Linked DNA regions of Homo sapiens: all the other regions are linked to region 1. Evidence: fine-mapped expression QTL. A gene starts in region 1. Each other region holds a variant in brackets. All regions are shown on one strand. Distances are from middle to middle. Region 1 holds the start of CLOCK (clock circadian regulator). Region 2 overlaps CLOCK (clock circadian regulator). Region 3 has its middle 6.8 kb from the start of SRD5A3.

Region 1 (4,241 bases):
CAGTGTCTCTAGAATAAAATTCAAAAATCCATCCTAGGGAAAGCATTCAAGCCCTCTCTTGTCTGGCTGCAACCTACCTTATCAGTATTAATAACTTTGCCTCCGTCTTGCTACCTACCTCTTGTCAGTCGGGACTCTTGATTACATGTGAAAGAAAACCTCTCACTGGTTTAAGCAATAAAACAGATGCAAGAATTTACTGACTGGTTTAACGAAATTTCCAGAGGAATCTAATCTACATTTGTTTCCAGGCCTCAAACATGTCTTTAGGCCAAACCTGTCTTCAAATCTGCTTTTTTTCCGTGTTGCCTTCTTTCTCAGAATTCACGTGTGGAAAGATGGCTCCAGGTCTCCATTCTCCCAGATTTAAACCCATTGGTAAAGACGTAACACCCTTCTTAGGAACCGTAGTTTGCAACCGAGGATTAAACTCAAATATGCCTTCCCCTTGTGTCCTGCTCAGACCATATGGACTGAGAGTGGATAAATGATAGTTCTTCAAAAGAAATTATCAGAATAGGGAATGAATGCTGAACAGGCAAAAATGTCGACCAAAATATCTTCTGCTATATGATGGGGTAAATTAACAAATCATGTTTTCCCACTCCTGAAAGAAAAATCCTTAGGTGCAGGATCAAGGATCTGAATAAGTGCTTCAGTTTGATGTTCTTTTGCCCAGAGCATACAGCAAGAATTGAAAATGTTTACTGAGGTGACTGTTACTTTAAAGGGAGGATTTTACGGCCAGAAAAGTGCATTTTTTGAAAGAAAAAGATGGCTTTTATTTCAAATCCAAAAGATATTCATTAAAACATAGGAATTACTAGGAATTAAGACTGTAAAGATCTCTTTTCCAGTAGAAGCACTGAAATGTGCTTTCTCATGTGGACCAAATGTGCCTTAACGCATCAAGATAAGTAATTTCCCGAAGATAAGTAGTAGTCACACGTTGTTCCAACGAGGAAATCCATGCAAATTAGGGTCCTGGTTTATTTCTGATGCTTCATTCTCCATCTTCCATTACACTGTCACTTGATTTTTAATAAAAGGGCAAGGGAAAAATCTCCAAATGAGCAAATAAATCCCGACCTCCTTTCGCTTCCCTCCTCTGGCCGAGGGCGCATGCCCTGTCTCCCCAGGCCCACCCACCAAGAAGAAGCAACCCAAGCCGCGCTCCCTCAGGAGATGGGAGAAGATGTTACTGGCGGTCCAGGCGCCTTTGCAACTCTTCTCTCCCAGCACCAGGAGAGGAAACACGAATGATGCCACTGGGGGAAAAAGTCTCCTGCCAACACCCGAAAAATCTAAGCTGGCGTCGGCAGTGTTTTGCTTTGGAAGGGAGAGCGGGTTCCTTTTCTGGCCTCTGGATCCCTCATCCGGCAGGAAGCTCTTCTTCCTCCTCCTAGCCCCCGGCATACGGGGGGAAAGCCAAAGAGCCTCCAGGACCTAAGGCTAGCGCTCTGCCGGCCGGCCGCGCCCTCCACCCGACCAGGCCCCGCCTCCCCGGCTTTCTAGTAACCGGCGCCGTTCCCGGCCGGGGCAGGGAACGGTGCGCCTGCAGAGCCAGATTTCGGCCCAAGGGGCGCGGGAGTCTCTTCGGGCGTCCGGGATCCCCTGGCGCGGCTCCGTGCTGCCTAACGGGGCAAGTCGCATGCGCACCGAGCCGCGCTGGGGAAAGGGAGAGTGAGGGGAGGGGCGAGCGCAGAGCCTCCGCCGGCCGTCTGAGCCCGCGGGGTCGCTGACGACGCATGCGCCGGGAGGGGGCGCAATCACGGACTCGGCTTGCGGCTGCCGGTTTAAAAAAGGAAACCCCGGAGAGCGAGAGCGCGAAGGAAATCTGGCCGCCGCCGCCGCGAGCGCTCCCGGTGAGAGGCGCCCGCCCGGTGGGCCCAGGGCCTGCCGAGTGCCGGTTGGCTTCCTTGGCGGCGCATGCGCGCTCCTGGGCTGGTGGAGGAGGGGAAGGGAAGGGAGGGGGAGGAGGAGCTGGCCACAGGAGCGGCGAATTTTTGGGGGGGTGGGTGGGGGGCGCCACTCACAGCCCCAGGTGCTGCTGGAGGTGGGAGCCGCGGCGCCTCCTGGACACAGGCGGGGTAGTGGTTCCGAGTCACCGCAGCGGGAGACCTGGGTGGGGGAGGGAAGAAGCCGGAGCCGCCGCAAGCCACACGGTGAGGGCGCGGGGAAGGGGAGGGAGCGGGGGGCGGCGTGTGTGGGGCCGGGGGGCGGCGGCCAAGGGTGGGGAAGGCGGGAGCTGAAGCCCAAGTTTGGCGTGTCGTTCTAGTGTGTCTTTTCCCGGGACTTCGGGCCGAGGCCCGCCCTGCCTGAGAGGCCCTCTGGGGCAGCTGGGGTTACCTGCGGGGCAGGGGCGGGAGTGGGGTGCACGGCGGGGCCGGGCGGCTTGAGGGCGCCCGGAGCTGCGGCCGATTCCAGCAGCTGGGAGGCGGGGAAAGACGGGGACCGGGTGCCGAGAGAGCTTTCGCTGGGGACCCGCTAGGCCTTGTGACCCACTTTATTCCTGTCACCACTCGGGCACGTTTGGAGCAGCGCCCAATGGGGCGCCGGGGCGGCCAGCTCCTCCGGGGAACCCCCGCCCTCCCGGCGCCCGGCCCGCGTGCCGCAGTCCGCAGTCCGAACGGCCGCCGTTGCCGGCCGCGGGCTGGTTCCGTTAGTGGTGGTGGTTCCGGGGTTCCGTTCCTAGGCAGCGCGCGGCTATTAGCGTCTGACTCCAGCGACCGCGCGCGGGTTCGAGGGTTGGCGGCGAGGCGCTCGGTTTCTCTTCTTCCGTCCACCCGCGCTTCCCGTTCCCCGTCACCGCCGCTGGCGTTTGTAGATTTCTTTCCGCCAGTGAAGCTGGGTTTTCTGGAGTTGGCTCTGGCGCTCTGGCCCCTGGAGTGTAATTTCCTACACGCAGCGCCGCAGAGTTTATATTCTTTGAAAGTGTTTGTAGCTTTGTAGAGGTCCTCTTGTTGATGGTAGGTGAGCCTAATTCTGCAAGATAAAAGCCTAGTCTCTGACCTGGCAGATGAAAGATCAAATCAGATTGTGGTTTCCTGCTATTAGAATGCCGTGCTATTAGACTTTAAGGCTTTTTAGCCTTCTTTAAAAAATAAAAAAATTTTTACAGTGGAAGAAAAGCACAAGAAGTAAACTTTTACAGTCGTTGATTTGACTATAACGCTGATCCCCCCAAATCAAAGGTAATTTCACTTTGAAGATTGCGTTCTGATTTGTAGCTTTAAGCGATTAGAGAAAATTGTGCAATATTCCCCTCTACCTGTTTGAAAATAAACATTCTTAAAAGGATGTAATTTAGATAATGAATTGCTTTCTCTGAAACTTATCCCTTGGGACACCTCAAATCTGATTGGTTTTCAAAGCTTGGGGGAAGGAAATTAATTCCTGTGATAAGTGGTTGGCTGAACAGAATGTCTTGAAAGGTTAGCCTGTAGCATTAGGAGAAATACCTAATGTAAACGACGAGTTAATGGGTGCAGCACACCAGCGTGGCACATTTATACATATGTGACAAACCTGCACGTTGTGCACATGTACCCTAGAACTTAAAGTATAATAATAAAAAAAGTAAAAAAAAAAAAAGTTAGCCTGAAGAAAGCAGACTGAAAATGTTCTAAAGCTAGGCGTAATCAGTTATGAAAAAAGAATAAGGAAGCTTTCTACGTACTAACATGCAAAGATTGCAAAAATTTGCTATGAAGTGAAAAAAGCAAGGTGTAGCGGTACTTTGTGAATAGTGTGTTACATCTTAAGGGCGAGGTGTAATAATACAAGTTTATGTTTGCTCTTTATATAAAGAAATTATGGGAGGATTTAGAAAACTAACAATAGAGGAGAGGGAGAAATAGTCTGAGGGAATGGTGGGAAATGAGATGTATTATGTGTATGTCTTCATGTTTTCAAATTTTTGTGTGTATTATGGACTCATAAACTGGATTAAACAAAAATCCTCCTCCCCCAAATAATTTGTGTGATTTTTGTTGCCTAATTTATGGTGATTTGAGTCATTTTCAATATGATTGCTTTTCATATTTTTTAGGAAAATCAACTAAAAAGGAAGTTTGGGATACCTTTTATGACTATTTACACTTTAATTTTTAAGATTGCAGAGGTCACAGGCATTTATCTTTTAAAGATGTTTAGTTATATCTTGCCTTGCTAAAATATATGACTGTTTACATTTGGCATTATGGCTGGATTATGCTGCTTTCAGAGTGTAGTTTGTGTTT
Region 2 (4,241 bases), 110 kb after region 1:
TTTAGGTGGCTGGGAGTTTTGATTGCATATTTTGTTATAGTTCATAGTTGGAAATATTTGCGTAAATGGTTTTCAACAAGCCTGAAAGTAATTTCAAGAATGTTTCAGTTATAGAGGTAAAATTTGCACACAAAACATCTTAGGCACTTTTTAACATTCTCAATCATGGGAATTTTAACTTTTGGGATTTGTTGAAATCTTTTTTATTATCCTTCACAATTTCAATGCTTCTTTTAGTCAGAAATGATTCAGGGTTATTTGAGGGGAAAAAACCCCATAGTGCCTTGATTTTAATTCAGGTGATAACTCACCATCTTGAAGTCATTGTCCGGTTTCCGTAGCAGTTTTGAAACCTTAGTACCTTTTTAACAGCATGTGGGTGTCAGTGTCATTATTAGTCTCCTAATAAGTTCCTCTGAAGACTGCTATCAGTCTCTTGGACTGGAGGTACAAATAATTTAGAAATAAAAGATGATAACCTAACACTATCATAGTTATTAATGTGATCCTAAAATTGTTTCCTAAATCAGCATTTTTCTTTAGTCATTTAAGAATTTACCAGAAATATTTGCTCAATATGATCTTGATATTCCTACAAAGAAAAAAGAAGGGGTAGGGATTTGGCTATGCCTTCACTACAACATTAGAATATTGTAACTCACATGCCTTCTAAACGTGAACTAAGATTTCCTTTGGCAATATCATATTCTAAAAGTAATAAATTCCAATACAAGTTACATACATTTAAAAAACATTTTACAGATTTTATGGTACTAATGAAATTTACAGTGATAGAACAAAAGAGGATTAGTAGAAAATACATTATTAGAATATAAAAAATGTTATTACTGAGGAAAGGGAGGAGAGGACAAGTGTAATAAATCAAAATTGACCTCAAAAGAAAATGTGTAACAGAGTTGAGGTTGTTAAAACAGAAAAGGTTCTGAATAATGAAGATTAACCTAATGCAGAATTGCTAGGTAAAGAGGTCAGGGGAATGCTAAGCCAGTTCTTAAGACTTCTCTGTCCTCTGCTTTGCTGTTATCCTTAAGGCATATACTTTGTCTTTCTGCAGAAAATTCTACCTGGCTACAATTACTTTGAACATTAATGTTGAAAAAGAAAACAACCAAAGAAAATTGGTACTTACCCTTCTACAAAAGAAGTGTGACTAGATATCAATCAGTAATTAACATATCAAGGAGCTCTTCTAGCTAAATGACCATCCAGTAGAGATTTCCCACATTCCCATGAATATCAAGAATAGTTGTCAGAATATGTATGTACCTGAGCATATGTACACAGACAAGGGGGATGTTGTGGAATATGGCAATAGCATTGTTCTTCTCCCCTTTCAAATTGCCTTTCTTGACCTTATGCCATTCCATATATATCTGAGTTGTGCCTCATTTATTTATTGGCAATACCTAGTGATACGGATTTAGCTAACAAAAGATATGAAGAACTATTATATTGAGGCCTGTCCTCTACATACCACACTTAAAAGATGGTGAACTGTGAGTACTACTTAGGTTGACAGCAACAAAGCATAAGACAAGCCCCAGGTAAACGTCTAAACTGTTTACTCACATTGTCCTACTCCAGCCCCTTCAATTATTTCCCATCTCCACAAATAGTCGGGGGAAAAAATTAAAATTTTCCTTTATGATTCTTACTGTTCTTCGCAGCTCATCTTTTCCTGCTTAGAATTAACCATTGCTAATTTAAAGGAGCAGCTAGCTGCTTTTCTGTCAGTCTGAAGCGTAGTAGTGGAAGAGGTAGTAAGCACCAGCTGCCTCTTTGCTGCTTTGTTTTCCTCCTGATTCTCTTAAATTTGGGTTGCAAAGCTATCCCGCCCCCCACCCTGCCCCATGAAACTTGAGCATTCAAATGAAGATTCAGCAGTGTCTGTTCTTCATTTCTATAGCCAAAGCTGTTAGTTAAAATCCCAAATCTATAGCATTTAAAGATACCAAATAGAAACACCTTCCAGCTTTAAAAAAAAAAAAAAAAAAGTCTTCCCTCTGCTTTATTCTCACTTTCTTAAAAACACTTATTCTGGGTGGTACTTTTTAGGTAAGAAACTACTGAGTTTCAGGAAAAATGCTAGCTACTCTGCAGTTACCGTGCTTTGGACTTGCAGTTATCATAGTTTTGGGAGAGTCAGTATTGTTTAACAAATGCAAGTGAGAACTAGAAGGGTTAATAAAGTTGCTCCTTAGAGTGGTGTCAAACCAGAACCGAGACACTTAAAAAGTACTTCATTTTTTGAATGGAAAATATTGGAGAAAAGTATGGGAGATGCAGGTAGCATGTGAGTAAATACTACGGTCTAGCCTTCGAGCATCCCAAATTC[C/T]GGGGGTAACTTGACAGTGCTGTGCTCTCCTTTGTCATTTATATCTGGCTTAGGAATGGAATAGTAATAACAAGATGCCAGTGATTTGGAATAGTTTGTTATAGAACATTCAGTGCAAAATAGTGAAAATGTTTGGTCTTCAGAAGTGCTGTAGTTGTTGGTCATTGCCTTAAAGCAGTCTGCTTGACGCTAGGAGCACTGAAGCAGTCCAGCTCCATCAAGAGCACTGTTGAAGGGAGAAGAACCCTTGTTCAGGAAGCCTTAGAAAGGGATCCTTAAAATAGTACTCTACGCAGACAAGTGAAAATTCTTTTAAACTGGATATTACTCAACATGTTTTCAGATGTTTCCACTACATTGAGGCAAACTTTTTAAAAGTGGAATGCAAATAGCATTTTACTTTAGTATTTCTGCTTTTTTCTTTCTGTTTCTTTGGTAATTGAAAGTTTGTTGATGAATATTTGTGTAAAACGCATTCAAGTCTATAACCTTTCCAATTACCTGTGGCCCTTAGTCCCACAGGAGTCCCTGTTGGAAGGGGGTAAACACTGGATATTAATGTTGCTGAGTGAGTCTTTCTAGCCAGGACAAGCTGATTGGAATTTTTGAATGGTAGAGAAGAAACAGCACAAAGGCACTTGCCATTTTAAGTGTTTGGAGAAAGAGAACCTTTTAAGTTTGGATTGGGTGAGCTTTCTTCTAAAAGGAGCTTCTGAAGTAATTGCAAAGGAATAGAATCGACTATTTTTATAGTATATTTAATATATTTGTATATAACTATAATAGGAACCCTCTACATGCCTCCCACTTTTCTAATTTACTTCCCCTTTTGCCATAGCACTAGTATAGCCTCATCCGCATGGGTAATGTGCCTATTGTCAGCCTACCAAAAGATAGTGCTGCTGCTTTATGAGACAGGTGAGAAGACCCAACTCTCATGCCTGGGGATCCTTTACGGAAGGAATAGCACACACTTTTAAAACAACATACCACAGTCTAAAAGCATCATTTTGAAATGTAACAAGCACTTTATTGCAATTACTCATTTTGATAAAGTTTATTCTTAGGCGTTAACCATTTCTAAAGGATCCCCAAATCATCACTTACTTAGGTGAAATTATATAAAATGACACATTTCTGAGAAATGTTTAGGTCCAGTGAACCGTAGTTGGTTTATGGGAGTGATTTCAAGATAGCCAAATGAACTTTGATTTTTGTTTTGAATGTGGTGGAGTCAAGAGATTGTAGATGCCTAGTTTGATTTAAACACTATTGTAAACCTATCTTGCCTATTGTGTGGACACCAAAAGAGACCAATGAGCCTGTTTATTTTTCAGAGGTCTAGGAAAATTGCATCCGTGTGAGTAGATGTACAGAACTAATCTAAAAGTGATTGCTAGTAACATTTTAGAATATAATAATTTCAAGAATTATTCTGAGTGTTTTAAATGTGCCCTGAAATGTTGGCATGTCATTTCAGCATTTCCATTTGAATTGCTCTTGTAATATTTTTGCACAAAAAGGACTGAGAAAAAGAATACTTTGGTTAAAGGAAAAAAATAGTATAATTTGGTCTTTAATTTTAATGTCTCCTGTGGAAACACTGGGGATGAATTTTGTTGGCACAGTTATTCAGGATATTTAAAACAGTGTTGAACAGTTCACAAGAAATTAAGCAAACTTGGATTTTAAAAATTAAAATACTTTCTTTCCATGTGACTGTTTTGCATAGTTTTTTCCCCCTATGTCATAACACTACATTCCTTGTTTTTCTTAAATAAAATACTCTGCAGGTTTTGTTGTGAGTGTTTATAACAGTATTTTGTAAGCTGCCTGGGTTTCCTCAGGGAAACATTATTTAGTGGAATAGGATATAGTTTATGGA
Region 3 (4,241 bases), 210 kb after region 1:
AGCTTTTCTTAGCTTTTATTTGGTAGGGCTTGATCCAGGAACAGTGGCCCATGATTCTTATGATAATGGCGCTTGCTTGACTCGGGTGTGCTGTGTCCATCCCCGTTCTGCTGTAGGAACAGCAGTCTTGGTGGGTAGCAGCACAAGGCAGGGTCCTTCCCAGGCTGGCTTGAGTTTCCCTTCTTTCTACCCTTTGATGGGAACGTGATCCCCAGGGTGGTGCTGGTGTACTGGAAACTCCAAGGGCGGCGCCTGTGCTAAAAGACCTTTTGTTTTAAGGGAAGAGAAGGTGGAAGAGAAACCAAGTATATAATTTCCAAGAAATTGATTTTTTGTTTTAAATGTGGGGATATCAGCAGTGGATTTTACAGTCCTTAGTGTCTTCTTGCTGAGAAATTTCCGTTAGCACCTATTTTTATTAGTTTTTAGGCCAAAGAAAGCCAAACACCATTTTATATTTGACAATGCTTCCTGCATGATTTTATACCAGATAAGCTGAATTTTACCTTTATATTAGTGTGTTATTAATGTTAAACTTAATTTTAATAAAACTTTATGGACATATTTATCCAATTTTAATGTCTGACCATAAGGTAAGATTTTTATAGACTCTTTTTAACCTTTTAAATTGTTGTTAAAGAGCAGGTTAGTGCTTTAAGAAAAACCTGTTGTGCTTTTATTTTAATGTCCAGTTCACAGAAAAACTGGATGATACCCCTTTAACTTTAGCCAATGTTTACACACAGAATTCCCCTTACAATTAATGTTTCAAAACTTGCTTAAACCTTTAAAACAAATTTTTTTCTCTCTCTCTAAGATGATAACCATTCTTTTCTAAAGCAAACTTTCTTCATGTCTGTGGACTAGACTGCCTAAGGCCACAAGATTAGAAGTTAGGATAATACATGTGACACTTAACTTTTAGGAAACTTTACTTTTGTTGAAAACCTTGTAAGTTTGGGATTTCAATTATCCTTTGTGATTAATAAGACCTCATTTAGTCCAAATTTAACTTAGAATTGATATAGATGACTCCTTCCTGATTCTGTAAGTATTTTAAGGCTTGGCTGAGTGCAAACAACTCACCAACTATTAGGCAATTTTCCTAACTCTACTTCTACAGGAGTTTCCCTATTACTTACTGAATACCCATTGTCTTTTTCCCTCAATCACCCGGGAGGAAACATCTATTGTCCTGTCCTGAAGGGAGTTCCTTCTAGGTCTGGTCGGACCTTTGTACAGTAATTAATTAAGATTTAGATCCCTGCTCTCCCCCGCCTTAGAAAACCTGCTGGGTTAAGGGAATTATCAGTGGTTAATGTTAAATCATCTTTTTCTAAGAGACTAGCCCCATACTTTAAGGTTCTTGAGTCAATAAGCTCCCTTTTTGCTTTTTTTTTTTTTTTTTTTTTTTTTTTGACTTAGGATAGTTCTGACCTGGTGAGGTGTGCTCATAATGAGGTTTCCTCTAAAAGTTATTTTTCTACTTTCTTCTGTTAGCAAAGCAGTTGCCGCTACAGACTGAATGCATTTGGGCCATCCGCGGGTTACTGTGTTAAGGATTTTTGATTAGGGTATTTCTAAGGCTACGCCCTTGTTTACACTGACAACAAGGTGGAATGGCTGCTTAAGGAGGGTAAAGCTGGGACAGCAGCTGCTTTTACGTGTTTTTGGTCCTTTCCTTATCCTTCTAATATTTTAACATACACCCTAAAGGACTACCAGAAGGAATCTGATCACCTTCACCTCTCCCTGAGTCAGCTTTACTCCTTGTCCTCATTTTACTAGAAACGTTTCCCATGTTGCTTACTGGTAAGGTTCAGTCTCCTGAAATTAGCGGAAAGCTCAACCCCTCAAACCAGGGATGTCTTGCCTTGCCTGTCCTGGAAGGTGCAACCCCTCAAACCAGGGGGTGCTTTGCCTGCCCCAGAAGGCTCAACCCCTCAAACCAGGGATGTATGTCTTGCCTTGCCTGCCCTGGGAGGTTGACCTGTTTCCTCCCTTTCCTTCTCTGAAGGTCCCTTGCACACTTCCCACTCTGGCCGCTTCCCCGAGGGAGAATTAGGCCCCTCTTAGTGTTGGCATGCCGGTATAAATCCCAACGCAGGATCCGCCCTAAGCCATATGAGGTAGCTAGGGGACCGCGGAGAGGACCCACTAACTCCGTCCAGCAGCAGGACTTGTCACCATCCACACAAACAACACTGCAAACAGGGTTGTCTGTGATCATTCACACACATACACATTCAGCCCTCCGGAATTTCACCATCAAGGAAGTACTTTATCGACTCCCGTGGCTTCTCCTTCGTTGGTCTGTGCACAGAGTCGTCGCCATGGTAGATGAGGATCCTTTACCCCAGGTTAGTGGCCAGTTTCTTTCCGTGTTGCTGAGAGTCCAGATTTATTCATCACACCGGGTGGGTCTCAGCCCCTTACCCCTAAGGCCACCACAAGAGGCGGCATGGCGCCTCATGAGAGAGGACTAGAGATGCCCCGGAGGAGAATGTATACCCGTACAATTGCTACCAAAATTGTTAGAAATACCAAAATTGTTAGAAATAGATCATTGGTGCCACAAAGAAAAGTCATCACAGTGACAAAAGATCTCTCAGCAAGGCCATCTTTACTTTCTGCAGAAAGGGTGCTCA[A/G]TTGCAGATGGAACAATGGCGAGAGCATCCTTGAACAAAGGAAAAGCAGACATATTTATCCCTTAACGCATTTGAGTCATCCTTACTGCTGTGTCCTGCATCCATTGACTGGAGTGGGACCTCACAATCTTAAACTGATACCCAGTTTACTAATAACCTGCAACTTTCCTAAATAGTTAAGTGCAGAGAAGAACAACAAGAAGTTGCTTACGAAAGGTTTAAGGAAGCAATAACATTTCCAAATAAGGAAGGGGCATACGCTGTGAGCTGGAATGTGTCTGTGATGACGTCCAACAGTTACATAGGATAGGGCTTAACAAAGTTATTAGCACAAAGCAAGGAGGCTTGAAGAAAGTCTTTAAAATAAACTATTATTTCTAACACTTGTGATTTATTCTTTAACAAGAAGGAAAACTTTGAAGAGGAAACTTTTTGCTTTCTACGTAAGACTTCTTCAAATAAAATAATAAAATGTTACTGATATTAAAGAAAATGTGTTTAACAGAAGAGGTATATTAATCCTACAAATTAGAAGACTCCATATAGTTAAGATGACAATTCTTCCTAAACTGATTTTTGTAATAAATATAATCCCAATCAAACCCCAATCTTTTGAGGAACTTAAGCTGATTTTAAACTTTATATGAAAATAAGAAGGGCTCATGGTGGCCAAGGCACTCTTGAAGGTGAAGAAAAATGTTAGATGTCTTACTCTATGAGACATCAAGGCTAATACAGAGTGTTACTATGTGTAATTATGTCAGTGTGGTAAAGGAAGCAGGAACAGACAAATAAACAATGGAACATAATGGAGAGTCCAGAAAAAGACACCCACATGTGTCAACCCTGGATGTAAGTTTGAGGTTGCATGATGTGTCAGTGGGGAAAGGATGAAGTTTACAATAAATGAGGCTAGGACAAATCAGCAAACTCTGAGAGACAGAGATGAAGACAGAGATGAAAGAGATAGAGATAGAAAGAAATGAGACCCCTTCCTTACTCCATTTATCAAAATAATTCTAGGTGGGCTAAAGACCTATGTAACAGGTAAAATGAAATCTTTTAGAAGGTAATATAGGAGACTATTTTCTGCTTTTTTTTTTTTTTTGAGACAGAGTTTTGCTCTTGTCATCCAGGCTGGAGTGCAGTGGCTCGGTCTCGGCTCACTGCAAACTCCGCTTCCCGGGTTCAAGAGATTCTCCTGCCTCAGCCTCCCCAGTAGCTGCGATTACAGGCGTCGGCCCCATGCCCAGCTAATTTTTGTATCTTTGGTAGAGACGGGGTTTCACCATGTTGGCCAGGCTGGTCTCGAACTCCTGACATCAGATGAACCACCTGCCTCAGCCTCCCAAAGTTCTGGGATTACAGGTGTGAGCCACTGCACCTGGCCTAGGAGACTATTTTCATGGCTTCATGGTAAGGAAGGTGTTCTTATTCAATATATGAAAAGCAACTAGAGGAAAATATCCAAACATTCTGCAACATTAAAATTAAAATCCTCTCTTCATCAAAAGATACCATAGAAGGCCAGGCGCAGTGGCTCATTCCTGTAATCCCACCACTTTGGGGAGGCTGAGGCTAGTGGATGGCTCG

What was found.
Region 2: its variant is fine-mapped to the expression of CLOCK in monocytes (TOPMed, PIP 0.95).
Region 3: its variant is fine-mapped to the expression of CLOCK in whole blood (INTERVAL, PIP 0.98).

What each region holds. Positions count from the first base shown.
Region 1 is chr4:55,544,406-55,548,646 of GRCh38, reverse strand. It overlaps CLOCK (clock circadian regulator), which reads left to right and starts at 1,738. Exons shown (of 23, transcript NM_004898.4): 1 at 1,738-1,865. It overlaps LOC124900704 (a long non-coding RNA gene), which reads right to left and starts at 2,782. Exons shown (of 2, transcript XR_007058122.1): 1 at 2,037-2,782; 2 at 758-1,031. RefSeq lists silencers at 1,463-1,832, 1,893-1,992, 2,113-2,742.
Region 2 is chr4:55,430,249-55,434,489 of GRCh38, reverse strand. It overlaps CLOCK (clock circadian regulator), which reads left to right. Exons shown (of 23, transcript NM_004898.4): 23 at 1-4,241. It also overlaps a transcript of TMEM165 not described here. Among named protein-coding and RNA genes, the nearest start is that of TMEM165, 36 kb to the right of the region's middle. The variant C/T (reference allele first, on the strand shown) is at 2,357.
Region 3 is chr4:55,337,365-55,341,605 of GRCh38, reverse strand. No RefSeq gene overlaps it. Among named protein-coding and RNA genes, the nearest start is that of SRD5A3, 6.8 kb to the left of the region's middle. The variant A/G (reference allele first, on the strand shown) is at 2,649.